Regions from separate parts of the Homo sapiens genome. Here region 1 is linked to region 2. The links come from fine-mapping of genetic effects on gene expression. A gene starts in region 2. The other region holds a variant in brackets. All regions are shown on one strand. Distances are between the middles of the regions. Region 1 overlaps BYSL (bystin like). Region 2 holds the start of USP49 (ubiquitin specific peptidase 49).

Region 1 (8,332 bases), 32 kb after region 2:
TCTCCTCAGTCCTCTGACCTCTTCAAATATTCTCTGGTGCTGGCAAGTTTCATGGTTTAAATACCATCCTTGAGTGACTACTCCTAACTTTATAGTCTAGCCCTGATCTCTTCCATGAAATCCAGATTCTTATATTCAACTGCCTATTTGGCATCTCCAATTTGAAATCTAACAGACAGCTCAAATTTAACATGTACAAAACAGAAATCCTGACCTTCCCTCCAAACCTGCTTCTCTCACCATTGCCTTCCCTGTCTCAGTTAGTAGCATATTCTTTCATTTGCTCGAGATAAACTTTAGACTCCTCTCTCTCCCTGCCCCCACCATCTCCTCTCTCTGTCTCTCCCTCCCCACATCTGATCTGTAAGGAAATTCTGATGACTTTGCCTTCAAAGTGTATCCAAAATGAGACCACTTTTCACCGCTTTGGAACACCATCCTGTCGTAGCCACCACAGTCTCTCACCTGGATTATCACAGTAGCCTCCTCGTTAGTATCTCATATTCTCCGTTTTTTCTTTTTTTCTTTTTTTTTTGAGACAGAGTCTCTCTCTCTCTCTGTCACCCAGGATAGAGTGCGGTGGCACAATCATAGCTAACTGCAGCCTCAATCTCCTGGGCTCCAGTCGTCTTTCCACCTCAGCCTCCCACGTAGCTGGGACCACAGGTGTGTGCCACCATGTCCAACTAATTCTTTTTTTTTTTTTTTGAGCCTGTCGCCCAGGCTGTAGTGCAGTGGCGCAATCTTGGCTCACTGCAACCTCTGCCACCTAGGTCCAAGCAATTCTTCTGCCTCAGCCTTCTGAGTAGCTGAGATTACAGGCGTGAGCCATCACATCCAGTTAATTTTTGTATTTTCAGTAGAGATGGGGTTTCACCATGTTGGCCAGACTGGTCTTGAACTCCTGACTTCAGGTCATCGTCCACCTCTGCCTCCCAAAATGCTGGGATTACAGGCGTGAGCCACCGCACCTGGCCGCTAATTATTTAATTATTTGTAGAGATGAGGTCTCACAGTGGTGCCCAGTTTGGTCTCAAACTCCTGGGCTCAAACGACCCTCCCTGCCTTGGCCTCCCAAAGTGCTGGGATTACAGGTGTGAGCTACTGCACCCTGCCGTGTCTCATACTCTCTACAAAGTACTCACAGGTGGGGGATTACAATGGTCTACAATGCACTATATGATCTGCCTCCTTTGCCAGTCTGACCTCTTCTACTGCTTTCCTCTTTGCCCATTCCACTCCACCTATTTAGGCTTCATTGTGCCTTAAACGTGGGAAATTAGGGGGTTTGGCCTGGTTGTTCCTTCTCTCTGGGATAGTTTGTTCTCATACACTTGTAGGGTTACTTTCTCAGAGAGGCCTATCCACTCCATTTAAGATTGCAGCACTCTACTCCATCTCCATACTCCCAGCATTTCTGCCCTATCTTTTTTTCATAGTACTTATCTTTTTTTTTTTTTTGAGACAGAGTCTCGCTCCGTCACCCAGGCTGAGTGCAATACCACGATCTCGGCTCACTGCAACCTCCACCTCCCGGGTTCAAGCGATTCTCCTGCCTCAGCCTCCCAAGTAGCTGGGATTACAGGCGCCCGCCACCACACCCAGCTAATTTTTTTTTTTTTTGTATTTTTAGTAGAGTTGGGGATTTCGCTATGTTGGCCAGCCTGGTCTCAAACTCCTGACCTCAGGTGATCCACCCGCCTCGGCCTCCCGAAGTGCTGGGATTACAGGCATGAGCCACTGCACCCAGCCCATAGTACTTATCTTTTAACCCAATATATTTATATGTTTATTTATGTCTGTCTCTTCCATTTAGACAGGATTGGGTGCGTTCAGGGTGGTATGGTCGTAGACTATCTCCTCCAATTAGAATGTAAGCTGTATAGAACAAAGTCTTTTGGTTTCGGTTGTTCGTGGATATATTGCCAGCACCCCGAACAGTGCCTCACATATAGTAGGTGCTTGGTGTTTGCTGAATGACTGGGTTAATCGGTAATGAATGATGGTCAGGTAGGTGGGAGCCAAGCCTACAAAAGATTTTAAAACCATCCTAACAGCAGTGGGAAGAATGGGAAGCTACTGGAGAATTTTAAGGACAGGGCTGATCAAATCAAATATGTGTTTCTGGAAGGTGACCGTCTGCAGAGTGGAAAATGAGTTGGAGGGAAGCAAGGTCAGAAACATAGAGACCAGTGGGCGACTGTTGAATAAATCCAGGCAAGAGATGATGCTGATCTAGGCTTAGATGGGGCTGTGAAGCATGTGAGAGACAGTCTATGAGGTAAAATTGAATATGATTTAGTAATTGATTGGGTGTTGAGGGTGAGGGCAGGGGATGAGGCAAGAGTACCTCCCAGGCTTAGCATTGGGTGGACGATGGTGCCGTTTACTGAGCTGTGGATGGTTAGCAGTGTAGACCTAGGAGGGAAAGAAAATTAGTTTAGTTGATAACGGGTGAGATTTGAGGTGCCTGTGAGTCATCCAAGAGCAGCTTACAGGAGACACCTGGAGTTAGGGTCTGGCACTAAGGAGAACCACCTACAAAGTACAAATTTGGGGGACCGTTGGAACGTGGAGACAAAATGTCTGTTCCCCCTTATTTAGTGTTTATCACACACTGCCTTTGTTGTTAATGACCTATTGATACGTAGCATTATAGCTCCCCACTTGGATTATTAGACCCCTTTCCAGATGCCCAGACATGTAGCCTTCCAAAAACAGAAGTTATTTAAATGGACTAACTTCATTTTTTTTTTTTTTTTTAAGACGGAGTCTCGCTCTGTCGCCCAGGCTGGAGTGCAGTGGCACGATCTTGGCTCACTGCAAGCTCCGCCTCCCGGGTTCACACCATTCTCCTGCCTCAGCCTCCCGAGTAGCTGGGACTACAGGCGCCCGCCACCACACCCGGCTAATTTTTTGTATTTTTAGTAGAGACGGGGTTTCACCGTGTTAGCCAGGATGGTCTCGGTCTCCTGACCTCGTGATCCGCCCGCCTTGGCCTCTCTAAGTGCTGGGATTACAGGCGTGAGCCACCGCGCCCGGCCTATTTATTTTTATTTATTTATTTATTTATTTTTTTGAGACAGAGTTTTGCTGTTGTTGCCCAGGCTGGAGTGCAGTGGCGCGATCTCGGCTCACCTCACCTCAACCTCCACCTCCCGGGTTCAAGCGATTCTCATGCCTCAGCCTTCCCAAGTAGCTGGGATTATAGGCATGCGCCACCAAGCCCGGCTAATTTTGTATTTTTAGTAGAGACGGGGCTTCTCCCTGTTAGTCAGGCTGGTCTCGAACTCCCAATCTCATGATCCACCCGCCTTGGTCTCCCAAAATGGTGGGATTACAGGCGTGAGCCACCACGCCCAGCCAACTTCATGTATTTAAATGGACTGGTGGATTGAAATCTGAACTCTACTGCCTGAATTTAAAGGCCCTCCAGTCTGGCTTCACCTTTCCCACGTACCTAGCATTATTTCTTGCTATTGCCTAGGAGACTCTTATATCCAAGCCTTATTTTCTCTGCGTCTGGAACACACTCCTTCTGCTCCCAAACTGCCCATCCAGCTCCTAACTGTCCTCACCACTCATCCTTTAAGTGCATATGTTGTCTCTACTACTCATTGTGGCATATAATCAAACCCGAATATGTGTAGAATAGTGGTGAAGAATGCAGTCTAGACCCAGACTACCTGTCTTGGGCAAATTACCCAACTTCTCAGTGCTTCAATGTCCTCATTTGAAACTGGGTATAGTAATAGTATCCACTTCTTGGGTTTATTCTTATTTATTTATTTATTTGCCATTGTTCCATAAGAAGGTTTATTTTATTTTTTTTAATTTTATATATATTTTTTGAGACGGAGTCTCGCTTTGTCACCAGGCTGGAGTGCAGTGGCGTGACCTTGGCTCACTGCAACCTCCACCTCCTGGGTTCAAGTGATTCTCCTGCCTCAGCCTTCCAAATAGCTGGGACTACAGGCGCCCACCACCACGCCCAGCTAATTTTTGTATTTTTAGTAGAGATGGGGTTTCACCATGTTGAC[C/T]AGGGTGGTTTCGATCTCTTGACCTCGTGATCTGCCCGCCTCGGCCTCCCAAAGTGCTGGGATTACAGGCGTGAGCCACCGTGCCCGGCCACTTCTTGGGTTTATAAGGATTAAACAGTTAACATGGGTATAGTGTTTAGAAGTTCCTTCTACAGGCCGGGAACAGTGGCTCACGCCCTGTAATCCCAGCATTTTGGGAGGCCAAGGCGGGCGGATCACGAGGTCAAGAGATCGAGACCATTCTGGTCAACATGGTGAAACCCCAACTCTACTAAAAATACAAAAAATTAGCCGGGCTGGTGGCTTATGCCTGTAGTCCCAGCTGCTTGGGAGGCTGAGGCAGGAGAATGGCATGAACCCGGGAGGCGGAGCTTGCAGTGAGCTGAGATCCAGCCACTGCACTCCAGTGTGGGTGACAGAGCAAGACTCCATTTCAAAAAAAAAAAAAAAAGTTCCTTCTACATAACTGAGTATGGTATGTTAACTATTATTTATGGCCATTGCTTTTCTTATTGTTTCCTGTATATACATTTTGTTTCTCAAGCATGATTGCAAGCCCCTGGGGACAGGGAGCTAATGCATTTGTTTCACTGCACATACCTGCGTCTATCACAACCACATGTGAGGCCTGTACTACATAATGGCTAAAGTTAAACTGACGAAATCCCTCAGCTACCTTTTGCTGTGCTCATCCATTTAGTCTCCCCTCTTCTAGGTCCAAGAATGCCTCAGGATGGATCAGATGACGAGGACGAGGAGTGGCCCACCCTGGAGAAGGCTGCCACAATGACAGCAGCGGGCCATCATGCAGAGGTGGTTGTGGACCCTGAGGATGAGCGTGCCATAGAGATGTTCATGAACAAGAACCCTCCTGCCAGGTAGGCCTGGGGATTTGGGATAATGAGTCCTTGTAGAAAGTTCCCACAGGAAAACAAGTTCCCTGGCAGACTTATGATTCCCTACCTTTGGAAAGGGCCCTGGAGTTGCTAGCTGTAGGGGACCACCTTGACAAAACTGGCCCATCCTCAAAGGACCACTGTGAGTAGGAATGACCCAGCCTCAAAAAACATTGTGTCCTTATGTCCATTTGTTGTACAACTGCCCAGTTGCCAGGGAAACAGTTCCAGGCCCCTTTTACACCTCTGGGGAGAGCCATCCTATTGCATTTGGTTTTGGTATTCTTAGTTTTTTTAGCGGTAAGCTCAACTTCCTTGGACAAGTCTTCATATCCTAAGCTTCATTTAAGCCAAGGTTTTTCAACCTCAGCATTATTGACATTTTGGGCTGGGTAATTTTGTGTGTGTGTGGAGGCTGTCCTGTGCAGTGTAGGAGGTTTAGTAGATATCTCTGATCTCTACTTCTAGACTCCAGTAGCAACCTTCCCCCAGTTGTGAAAACCAAAAATGACATCAGACATTGCCAAATGTCCTCTGGGAGGCAAGACTGCCCCTAGTCAGGACCACTAATTTATTCCCATCTATAATAAATGCTAGCTCCAAAACATGCAGGCATTTAGACTGCCTGTGGTCAAACTCCTGAGCCCATAAATTTTGGCCCTTGGGAGTGGAGTCTAGGATAAGGGTCCTCAACCAGTTCATTCTGACCCTGTGATATTAACATAATGGTGTCCCTGATACTTTAGGCTGTTTTGGGCTAATGCATCTCATTGCTAATCATACTATAAAAGGACAGGGAGGCTGATAAATTCTGTGGCAGCTTATTTGAAAATGCAGAATGAAGAAATGAAAATGAGCCCCTCTCCCAGATTGATGCCTAACAGTTGAAATATATGTCATAAAGTATGTACTTGGGCTTGTCCCCCCAGAGAGCCTCTCAGGTTCTCACTCAGCACCTCATAACTCCTACTTCACTGATAATGCTGACCAATTTAGCAGAATGCTTTTCCAGCTTGTAGTAAATAGAGTAGACAAGCTCCTTGAAGTAATCAGAACTCCTGGCAGTCGTAAGAAATGATAGCTGGCATCTTCAGAAAGCAAGCCTAGATCCACATGAATTCAACAATCAGAGGCCATTTAGTTTGGGGGCACATTATAAGGTACTATAAAGCACCTTAACTCAAGACTTCCAAAAACCTGAGTTTGACTCTTACCCCCACCTGACAGCTGTGAGGCCTTGGGTGAGTTATTAACCTGAGGCCCAGTTCCCATGTCTGCATAAGTTTCCGTGTCCTATAAGTGTTGCGCTGACTCTAGGACTGAAAAGTCCCAAACTCAGTGCCTGGCATTGAGTAGGACCTCAGAAAAGAGGAGCAGTTTGTTTTTTGTTTTGTTTTGTGACAGGATCTCACTCTGTCACCCACGCTGGAGGGCAGTGGCATGATCTCAGCTCACTGCAACCTCAGCCTCTCGAGTAGCTGGGATTACAGGCACGTACCACCACGCCTGGCTAATTTTTGTTTTATTAGTAGAGACAGGGTTTCACCATGTTGGCCAGGCTGGTCTCAAACTCCTGACCTCACGTGATCCACCTCCCTCAGCCTCCCAAAGTACTGGGATTACAAGCGTGAGCCACTGCGCCCAACTGAGAAGCAGCTTTAAATACATTTCAGTCTGGGCATGGTGGCCCAGACCTGTAATCTTAGCACTTTGGGACGCCAAGGCAGGAGCCCAGGAGTGTGAGACCAGCCTGGGCAACATGGGGAGACCCCATCTCTACAGAAGAATAAAAAACTAGCTGGGCCTTGTACTATGTTCCTGTGGTCCCAGCTACTCGAGAGACTGAGGCGGGAAGATCGCTTGAGCCAGAGAGATAGAGGCTGCAGTGAGCCATGATGGTGCCACTGCATGCCAACCTGGGCAACAGAGGTAGACTCTCTCTCAAAAAAAATAAATAAATACACTTCAGCAGCCTCTGAAGATGCTAGTATTATATGACAGCTCAAGGCGATGGTAATTCTGAATCATTAAGATAAGATTATGTTTGATACACCCAACAATACTGTTTAAGGAGGCTGAAAAGAATATAATCAGTCTTAGAAATATTTCCATAGATAACGCTTACTGTGTACTGACCATTCCAAGTAATGAACAGACATTAACTTATTTAATCCTTCCATTAATCTTTTAAGGTGGGTACCGTTATTATCCCTATTTTACAAATGAGGAAACAGAGGCATAGAGAGGTAAAGTAACATGCCCAAGATCATACCAGGGAGTGGGTGAGCCAGGATTTGAACCTGGGCAGACTGACTTCAGAGTTGAGGTTCATAATAACCTCCGTACAACTGCTAGCTTTGTCCTAAATGGAATGACTTTCAGTTCCTTTGCACCCTGCAGTGATTCTGTCTGTGGTGGATGAATGGGCACAGAGAGAGAACTCTAAGCTGCATATCCCAGCAGGATCGCAGTATGGCGGTGCTCACAGGGGACTGTGGGGAGTCTGGAGCTTCCTGGACAGTGACCACAGTGCTCCTTGCCCCCTCTCTCCCCTCCTCTTGGCACTTCCCCTCTTAGGCGCACCCTGGCTGACATCATCATGGAGAAGCTGACTGAGAAGCAGACAGAGGTTGAGACAGTCATGTCAGAGGTGTCGGGCTTCCCTATGCCCCAGCTGGACCCCCGGGTCCTAGAAGTGTACAGGGGGGTCCGGGAGGTAAGAGCTGAGAGGGGAGCCATGGTGGAAGACCCCTTTGGGGGCTGTGGGCTCCTGCCACAGGCTTTTTTGCCTTTTGCCTGCATCACATACTAAAGAAGTCATGGGAGTAGAAAACAGACCTAAGAGGCAGAGTGTGTGGGTTCAGATTCCTGCTCTGCCTGTAAATGACTTGGCATCCTTGGGTCGGTTACTGGAACTCTCACTGGTCATCTGTAAAATGAGCATAATAATGGCACCTCCTTATAGGTTATTGTGGGGATGCAATGAGTTAATATATTAAAAGCACCCAGACAAGTTCCTAGCCCACAGCAAGCTTGCCATATGTGGATGACGATGATTGTTTTACCTCCCTCATCCCTAGGTATTATCTAAGTACCGCAGTGGAAAACTGCCCAAGGCATTTAAGATCATCCCTGCACTCTCCAACTGGGAGCAAATCCTCTACGTCACAGAGCCGGAGGCCTGGACTGCAGCTGCCATGTACCAGGCCACCAGGTAGAGTAGCTGGGGGTTCGGGGGCCTTGGGTTTATAGGTGCAGGCTGAGTTTGGGACGGACAGGCTTTCCTTGCCTCTGGCCCCAGGGCATTTGAGCTTTGCCCCAGGGCCCTCTCTGTGCTACTTTATAGCATCATTTTTCTAGCTTTTCCTGTGTCATTTTTTGGGGCCAAGACCCAGT
Region 2 (8,332 bases):
AGGACTACAGGGATAATTTTTAAAGATTGGCAAACAAGACTTGTTAAGTGTTGAATCTGAAGAAGAACTTGGTGAGGGAGAACTTCACAACAGGCAAGCCAGAGGCAAAACCAGAGCACAGACTCTGCTGGCAAAATGCAAAGGCTGGAATCCCATCCCACCACTTGGTAGAATTCTAGCTTTTGAACTAAAATAAAGATTAAATGTATCACTGGGTTACAAAACATAGTATTATTTGTAATATAAGATAATTACCAAATAAATAGTTGTAGGAATGTCTGAGTATAACCTTGGGCAAATCATTTAATCTCAAGGACCCTCTATTTCATCACCTGTAAAATGAGAATAGTAATAGTACCTACCTCACAGGATTGCCATTGAGGAGTAAACAAGTTACAATTTGCAGTGCTTACAGAAGTATCTGGCACAAAAGCATTATATGTGTGTTGGCTACTATTATTAAGTTTATGAAGAACTAAGGTCTTATAAATACAAAAGTACACAGGTATTTTTTACTCAAAAATTGAGAATGGGGCAAGAGGAAACAAACACATATATAGCATTAAACATGTGCTGGTTGGAGAGAAGGCAGACTCTCCTGATAGAGAAATTATTAAATGCTTGCAAAGATTATCTACAGAGGTTACCACATTACTGCTGAAGATTTGTTTTAAAAAATAGGATAAATTTTTATCTACCTGGAATGATTTAAGTGGGATATTGACTGGAGTTGCAGGATAAACTAGAGGTCCTTTCAAGGTCTCTTCCCATCCAAAGAATCTACGGTTAACCAGGAAAACATTTAATTATGTACAGCCTAATAAATCTAAAAATATAAACTTAAAAGCTTTTGCTTAGCAAATAAGATTATAACCAAAATAAAGTTAAATTGGGTAGAACTGTACTTGATGAACAAATGAAAATAAAGCTTAAATTTATCATTGGAGTCCTTATTGATAAATAGTATTATCTCAATTTTTAAAAATCCATTTTCAGTTTTAGAAATAGCGACTGAGAAATAACCATTGACAATGAGACTCAGTGGTTTAGCACACTAAGGCCGTTGCATACAGAAACAAAAGGCAGGACTCACTCTTTCCCTTGGCTGATCTTACAGTTTATATTTCCTTCTTTACCAATATCAAATAAGTCTATAATCACTTATATAAAGATATTGAGCATTAAACAATTACAATTACATTATAAACATGGCAATACCATACAGAGTACGTCCTACTACTAACGCCAGCCCAAACACATCTATAAAAAGAATATGCACACACATCTCACTGAAACAAGTGCCTCATATCAAAGTTATTCTTCATCTTGAAAGTCAACATTATCAAACTAATCCTTTTAAAATGTAGTGGCAAAAATAGTAATTTTTACCAAGATCCTCTGTTAAATTGCTAAATACATCTAGTAACCTTGAACACTTGCTTAATACAATCCAGGAAACAAACCATAAACTAAATACTATGCCACTAACACAGTAGCTGAATGCAGAAAGAGTTTTCTAAATTATACATTAACCATTGTTGCTCAAATCCACAAATCAAAATCTAATCTTTGTTAACTACTACAAAAGTCATAAACCTAATCTTTGTTATTTATACAAACACCAGCAAAAGTGTCAATCCAAAATTTACCCAACTTTGAAAAAAAAAGTATCTTTGTGCATCTGAGTGTACACAATGAAATAACCCCAAAGAAGATTCTCAACAATTGTTTGAATTTTTCCCTAAGTAAATCATATGCTATCCTTTGGCACCATCAAATGCAAAACAAATATTCATTCATATTCTTAGCTAAATGTAAAAGCTTCTGAAAAAAATCATTAAAACAAAATTCTAAGTAAGAATAACCAAATTTTGCCCCAAATTTCTTATCTTCCTTTTCATTTCTAAAGGTGTCTTAAAAATCAAAAGCTTCTAGAAAATTAGTATTAATCTGGCCTTCTTTATTCATAACCATAAAACACGAAAGGCAGTGGAGCTGTCCAAAGACCAAGCTTGCTGCAGTATTATCTTACAGAGATGTTTTTCCATCAAAATTACTCATAAATTTATTTGCCCTAAAAAATAAGTCTGCTACTCTAAAATCCTCCACTACTCTACAATTCTCCCTTTCTTTATGCCATTTTGTTAAATGGGTGAGTTACCAACTACAGCATGAAACGTCCCGCACAAAGCTAAAGGCAGCTCAGGAACTCAAAGCCCTCAGCTCTGATTTAATCTCTCCCCCAGTAAACTTCCTTGGTTGGTTATCTGCCTTTCTCTGAAATGATTTCTTAACATTCTCCAGCAACTGAAAACAATAAGCAGAAATCTGGTTGATTAATCAAAAGAAACAGATTCTCATCTTTCTCTATCCCAACAACAGTGCGTTCTCCATTGAAAATGAAAATGCTGTCCATAAAACACAGCCCAGCACTTGTCAGGTGCAACACTCCTACAACACTAAAACTATCACATCACACGAGTACACCCTAAATAAGCACACCCTTTCCCCGAATTATCACAACACTAGTGAAATGCAGAGGTTTTCAACACCCAGAGTTTATACTTTATCATCCATACAAGAAAAAAATCAAATCAAAATGAGTCTCATTTCTTCAAAGTGGACAGGAAAGTCAAATCAAAAGCAATGAAGGGTGGAAGCAGATTCAAGATTTCTTGAGAGAAAGAGGTTTCTGGAATTTCCTACTTTTAGGGACAAAAGGATTCACAGTTTCAACACACAGTTCTCTCCTCAACAAAGAATTCCTTTCCTGCACCCCCCACCTCTGCCCTTACTTTTTAGTCTTTACCCCTGTCTCTAGGTCCCCTTTCACTCACCATGGTTCCTCGTCTTCTGCACCAAAGGCTCTCTTACACTTGATCTTTCACTACAGCATTTCTGCCCTGACCCTTGCAGACCTTCTGGAGCAACTCCCCATAACACGCACATTCGATTCCCACCCCCCTGCAGTCTACCCCAGTTCTACATCCATCAGGACTCCCCCAGCTTCTCTTAGCCCCCTCTCTTCCCTTACTCCCCATCTCATCCTTTAAATTCTGGGGCCCATCTCTTCCTGCTCCTCTCACCATTTGCTTTTAGCCCTGTCTCTTTACCTCACTGTTTTCACCTTGGATCTTGCTGAACCTCTTCAATTAACGTAATTACCCAGTTATCCTTGTCCCAGATGGCCATCACTTCTTACACCCTAACTCTAGTCTCCTTTCAGCTCTTCTGGTCCCAGAATCGTCCTACAGACACCCATCTCTTATCTGTTTCCTTTCGCCCTTCCACCACACTCTTATTCCTGACTCCACCTGGTTCCAGTCCAGGTCTCATTTGCCCTCCCTCACTTTACAGAATTTACATCCATCGCCCACCCACTAACCCATTCCTTTCTCAGAACCTCGCCAGCAGTTCCCACCACACCGTTGGTCCCAGTCCTTCAGCTCATCTCGCTCCGCACTAGTTCACACCCTCGTCACGTCTGGCTCTTAATCACTCTCTCTTTCCTACTCCCAACTATTACCCCAGCTCTGCCCCTCCTTGTCTTCCACTTCCAACACTTACCCCGGTACCCCTCACCCCAACACCACCCGCTACGAAGATTTCCCCTTCAAACCCCTGCTCTTACACCTAACCCCAGGATCCCTTTCCCCAGCCCTAACCTCATTCCCTGCCCGGCTTCCTTAACGCCCACCCTGGCTTTTGCCTCCTTCCTATCTCCTTGGCTGGCTTTTTCTCACTCCTCCTCTCCCTGGCTTCTAACCCTTTCTCCCCTTAATCCTCCTCATCTCATTCTCAACCCGGTTCCCCTCATCGCCTCCAAGCCTTCCTTTCCCTCTCCCTTCAACGCTTTTGCCCCAACCCAGCCGTCGCCCACCCCGCCAAAATAAGGCGCCCGCGCGCCCCGACTCCCGGCTCTCGCCTCCCGCCGCCCCCGCCCCGGGCGCCCCCAGCCCGCCGGCGCCGCGGTCCCGCCCCCTGCCGCCGCTCCTCCCGCCCGCGAGGCGCGCGCTGCCTTTGTCGCCCCTCACCCGGTGTGTGAGGATTTTGCTTCTTTAAAGGGGAGGGCTAGTGAGCCGGAGACTCCTATCCCCGCCTCCGAGTCTTAGAATGGGCTCCCTGGCCGTCGCGGCCTCCCCGGCCCCCGTTCCCCCTACCCCCTGGAGCTACCCACTTTGCTGCCTCCCCACCTCCTCCGTCCCCTCCCCCGGCCCCCTCTATTTACCGCCATCATCAGCACGCGCGAGCTGTCACCAGGGCGCGAGACAACCGAACACGGCCCCGCCCCCTGCCCGTCTATTGGCCCGCCCGCTGGAGCCCCGCCCCTCAGGCCCTGCATTGCGCCAACGGCGCAGCGCTGGGCCGCGACCCCGGCACCGGCACCCGTTCCGAGGGTTCGCGCCGCAGGCGCAAAGTTTAGGGTCAGCCACAAACGCGCGGCCGCTTTGAGCCTGGCGTAAGGGGCGGCGGCGTAGGGGGACGTTGTGAATAGCTGGTCGAAGTTTGGTTGAAGCACAGGAGGGTAAATAAGAAGGTTTCCAGACAAAGAGACTCTTAAAGGTACAGACTCTTATGTCTGTCCCTCCTCCTTAAAGGGCCAGAGACGCTCCCGAGCCCATCTCCGCCCCCTTCTTCCCGGGGAACTGTAAAGGTATTTTACATGAGTTTCCCATACTCTTTTCGGTTCACCTTTAACACCTCTCCCCACTGCGAAGGACAAAGGCTTTCTCACTATCCCGTCCGTATGTTTTGTTTTATTCTGTTAAAAGACGTTATTTCTGTGTTGTTCCTAAAGCAGCAGCCCTCAAACCGTGGGGTTTCCGGAGGCAGCGTTTGCAAAAGTTACTATTGGCTCCCAGGCGGGTGAGCACGTGTCTGGCTTTTGCCACAGATGACCCAAGAGAGATTCAGCTGTTTTATGGAAATCCCCCACAAGTTAGAGGATCGCTGCCGGAACTGAAGAAGTTCAGCAGATTGTAAGGCTTGGGAAATAAACCAGACTGACTTGGTAGTGGTCCATTGGGAAACAGAACAGCACCTAAGCTACAAAAGGCTTAGGTTAAGCAGTCTCCTAGGTGCACTGTCTTGAAACTACTTGCGGGGTGGTAGTGGGGGGAGGGGATGGGAGTCTCCCAAAATAAGATCAACAATTTCAACACCCAACACATAGCTAAGGCAGATAAAGACTTACATTTAAATATAAGGACAAGTAAAAGAAACAGACATTAGCTATAGTAGTGGCTCAAGTTACACACCTGTAAACAGGAGAACTAGGTAAGCACAAAAAAAAAAAAAAGAACACCACACACAATAGGAAGGGGGAAACTACAATGCCTGGACCAAGCGCTGTGTAGGCAATTTATTAACAACTTGCACTTTTAAAAGAGGTTTGATAGAAGGAGAGGAAGTGGAGTGTTTCAATTTGGTTTGGTCGGGATTTATCATGAGGTTCAAGGCCTCAGAGTTAGATTCAGAATTTAGCTCTCCCTTTGTCGTCCATCACAGTTAACATAATTCTTTTTAAGGAATTCTTAACATTATAACTCTAATTATATGTCTTATTCCCTTACTCAACAATCCCCAAGAAAATTCTTGGAGAAGAAAGATTGTTACTTATTCAATGTTAGTTCCATAACAAGGTGCTTTTGCTGAGTGAAGAATTTGGGAGCCACTTAAAACTTCCAATGGAAGGGATGCTCCCAGAATAGCAATACAGGAGGAAAAGTTTCTCAGTGATGTGAGCATGTATTAGATCAGTGTTCTCAAAAATGTGGCCTGGAGGCCGGGCACGGTGGCTCACGCCTGTAATCCCAGCACTTTGGGAGGCCAAGGCAGGTGGATCATGAGGTCAGGAGATCAAGACCAGCCTGGCCAACATGGTGAAACTCCGTCTCTACTAAAAATACAAAAATTATCCGGACGTGGTGGCGTGTGCCTGTAATCCCAGCTACTCAGGAGGCTGAGGCAGGAGAATTGCTTGAACCAGGGAGTTGGAGGTTGCAGTGAGCTGAGATCGTGCCACAGCACTCCAGCCTGGCAACGGAGTGAGACTCCATCTCAAAAAAAAAAAAAAAAAAAAAAAAGTGTCGCCTGGAAAGGCCTAGGGATCTCTGAGACCCTTTGGGCTGGGGGGATAGTGGGGTGCCTGAGATCAAAACGATTTTCCTAATAATACTGAGACATATCTGCATTGTCACTGTGATGATATTTGCACAATGATACAAAAGTAGCAATGGGTAAAACTGCTGCCTTAGCACAAATCAAGGCAACTGCACCAAGTTGTGCTAGAGGTCAAGGTATTCTTCACTGCTACAGTAAAAAAACACCTGTTTCAGGCCGGATGGGTGCAGTGGCTCACACCTGTAATCCCAACACTTTGGGAGGCCAAGGCAGGTGGATCACTTGAGGTCAGGAATTCGAGACCAGCCTGGCCAACATGGTGAAACCCCTCTCTCTACTAAAAATACAGAAATTAGCTGGGCGTGGTGGCACGCACCTGTAATCCCAGCTACTCGGGAAGCTGAGGCAGGAGAATCACTTGAACCTGGGAGGCAGAGGTTTCAGTGAGCCGAGATCGCACCACTGCACTCCAGCCTAGGCAACAGAGTGCGACACTGTCTCAAAAAAAAAAAAAAAAAAAACCACCTGTTTCATTTAAGAGGTCTTTGATGAAGACAATAAAAATTGTTTTATTTAAGTACACGTTTATGTGATTAAATGCATGTATGTATGCATCAAGCACTTTTAAGTACAACATTTGTCTTGAGGAAAAGCACTCTTGCAATTTGAGTTTGGAGCTGAATTAATAGCTTTCTTCATGGAACACCGTTTTTATTTGAAAGAACAGCTAACAGACTAGTTGTTCACTGGATATTTGGCAGACATGTTCTTAAAAATAAAGTAGAGCCTGATAGCATTGTCGGTTATGATAAAACTCAAGCCTTTATTTTTATTTTTGGAGACGGAGTCTCACTCTGTTACCCAGGCTGGAGTGGAGTGGCGTGATCTCAGCTCACTGCAACCTCTGCCTCCCAGGTTCAAGCAATTCTCCTGCCTCAGCCTCCTGAGTAGCTGGCACCACAGGCACACGCCACTAACGCCCAGCTAATTTTTTGTATTTTAGTAGAGACAGGGTTTCGCCATGTTGCCCAGGCTGGTCTTGAACTCCTGAGCTCAGGCAGTCTGCCCGCCTCAGCTTCCCAAAGTGCTAGGATTACAGGCGTGAGCCACCGCACCCGGCCTGATAAAACTCAAGCATTTAAGTCAAACAGAATTTCTAACAACTGACTTGTATCTCCCAATGTAAGTTTGATAGCTTCCCATGACTTTTTCTAATAAGACTGGTAGTGGGCCAGGCACGGTGGCTCATGCCTGTAATCCCAACACTTTGGGAGGTCAAGGTGGGCAAATCATTTCAGGCCAGGAGTTCGAGACCAGTCTGGCCAACATGGCGAAACCCCATCTCTACTAAAAATAAAAAAATTAGCTGGGCATGGTGGCGCATGCCTGTAATACCAGCTACTCAGGAGGCTGAGACACAAGAATTGCTTGAACCAGGGAGGCAGAGGTTGCAGTGAGCCGAGATCATGGCACTGCCCTCCAGCCTGGGCAACAGAGCAAGACTCTGTCTCACAAAACTAAAATAAGTCCGGGCACGGTGGCTCATGCCTGTAATCCTGGCACTTTGGGAGGCCGAGGTGAGCGGATTGCCTGAGCTCAGGAGTTCAAGACCAGCCTGCGCAACACAGTGAAACCCCATCTCTACTCAAAATACAAAAAAAATTAGCTGGGTATGGCGGCATGTGCCTTAGTCCCAGCTACCCGGGAGGCTGAGGCAGGAGAATTGCTTGAACCTGGGAGGCGGAGCTTGCAGTGAGCCGAGATGGTGCCACTGCACTCCAGCCTGGGCGACAGAACGAGACTCCATCTCAAAAAATAAAATAAAATAAAATAAAAATAAAAATAAATAAATATGATTTTTTGATACTGTATAATGTGTCAACATTTAGGAGATGTGCAGTGTTTTCCAAATGACCAATGCATGACACTACAAAATCACACATTAGTAAAAGATCCATTCAAAGTGCAAAATAAGGCCAGGTGCAGTGGCTCACGCCTGTAATCCTGGCACTTTGAAAGGCTGAGGCAGGTGGATCACTTGAGCCCAGGAGTTCGAGACTAGCCTGGGCAATATAGCGAGACCCCCATCCCTAAAAAGAAAAAAAAAAAGTGCAAAATAAACCAATAAATATTAATGGAATATAAAAAGTTCACTAATATACTTTGAGGTTCCACATTGCAACTAACCTTTAGCAGAGTTTTGATAGCA

Evidence for each region. PIP is the estimated chance that this variant, and not a neighbour inherited with it, causes the effect.
Region 1: its variant is the best candidate, but not a certain one, in a credible set for the expression of USP49 in thyroid (GTEx, PIP 0.59).

The regions. Positions count from the first base shown.
Region 1 is chr6:41,922,619-41,930,950 of GRCh38, forward strand. It overlaps BYSL (bystin like), which reads left to right. Exons shown (of 7, transcript NM_004053.4): 2 at 4,756-4,918; 3 at 7,514-7,652; 4 at 8,017-8,150. Among named protein-coding and RNA genes, the nearest start is that of BYSL, 5.3 kb to the left of the region's middle. RefSeq lists an enhancer at 2,642-3,142. The variant C/T (reference allele first, on the strand shown) is at 4,041.
Region 2 is chr6:41,891,096-41,899,427 of GRCh38, forward strand. USP49 (ubiquitin specific peptidase 49) reads right to left here and starts at 4,280. Exons shown (of 8, transcript NM_001286554.2): 1 at 4,229-4,280; 2 at 699-780. RefSeq lists enhancers at 3,039-3,553, 4,488-4,677 and silencers at 4,118-4,357, 4,146-4,438.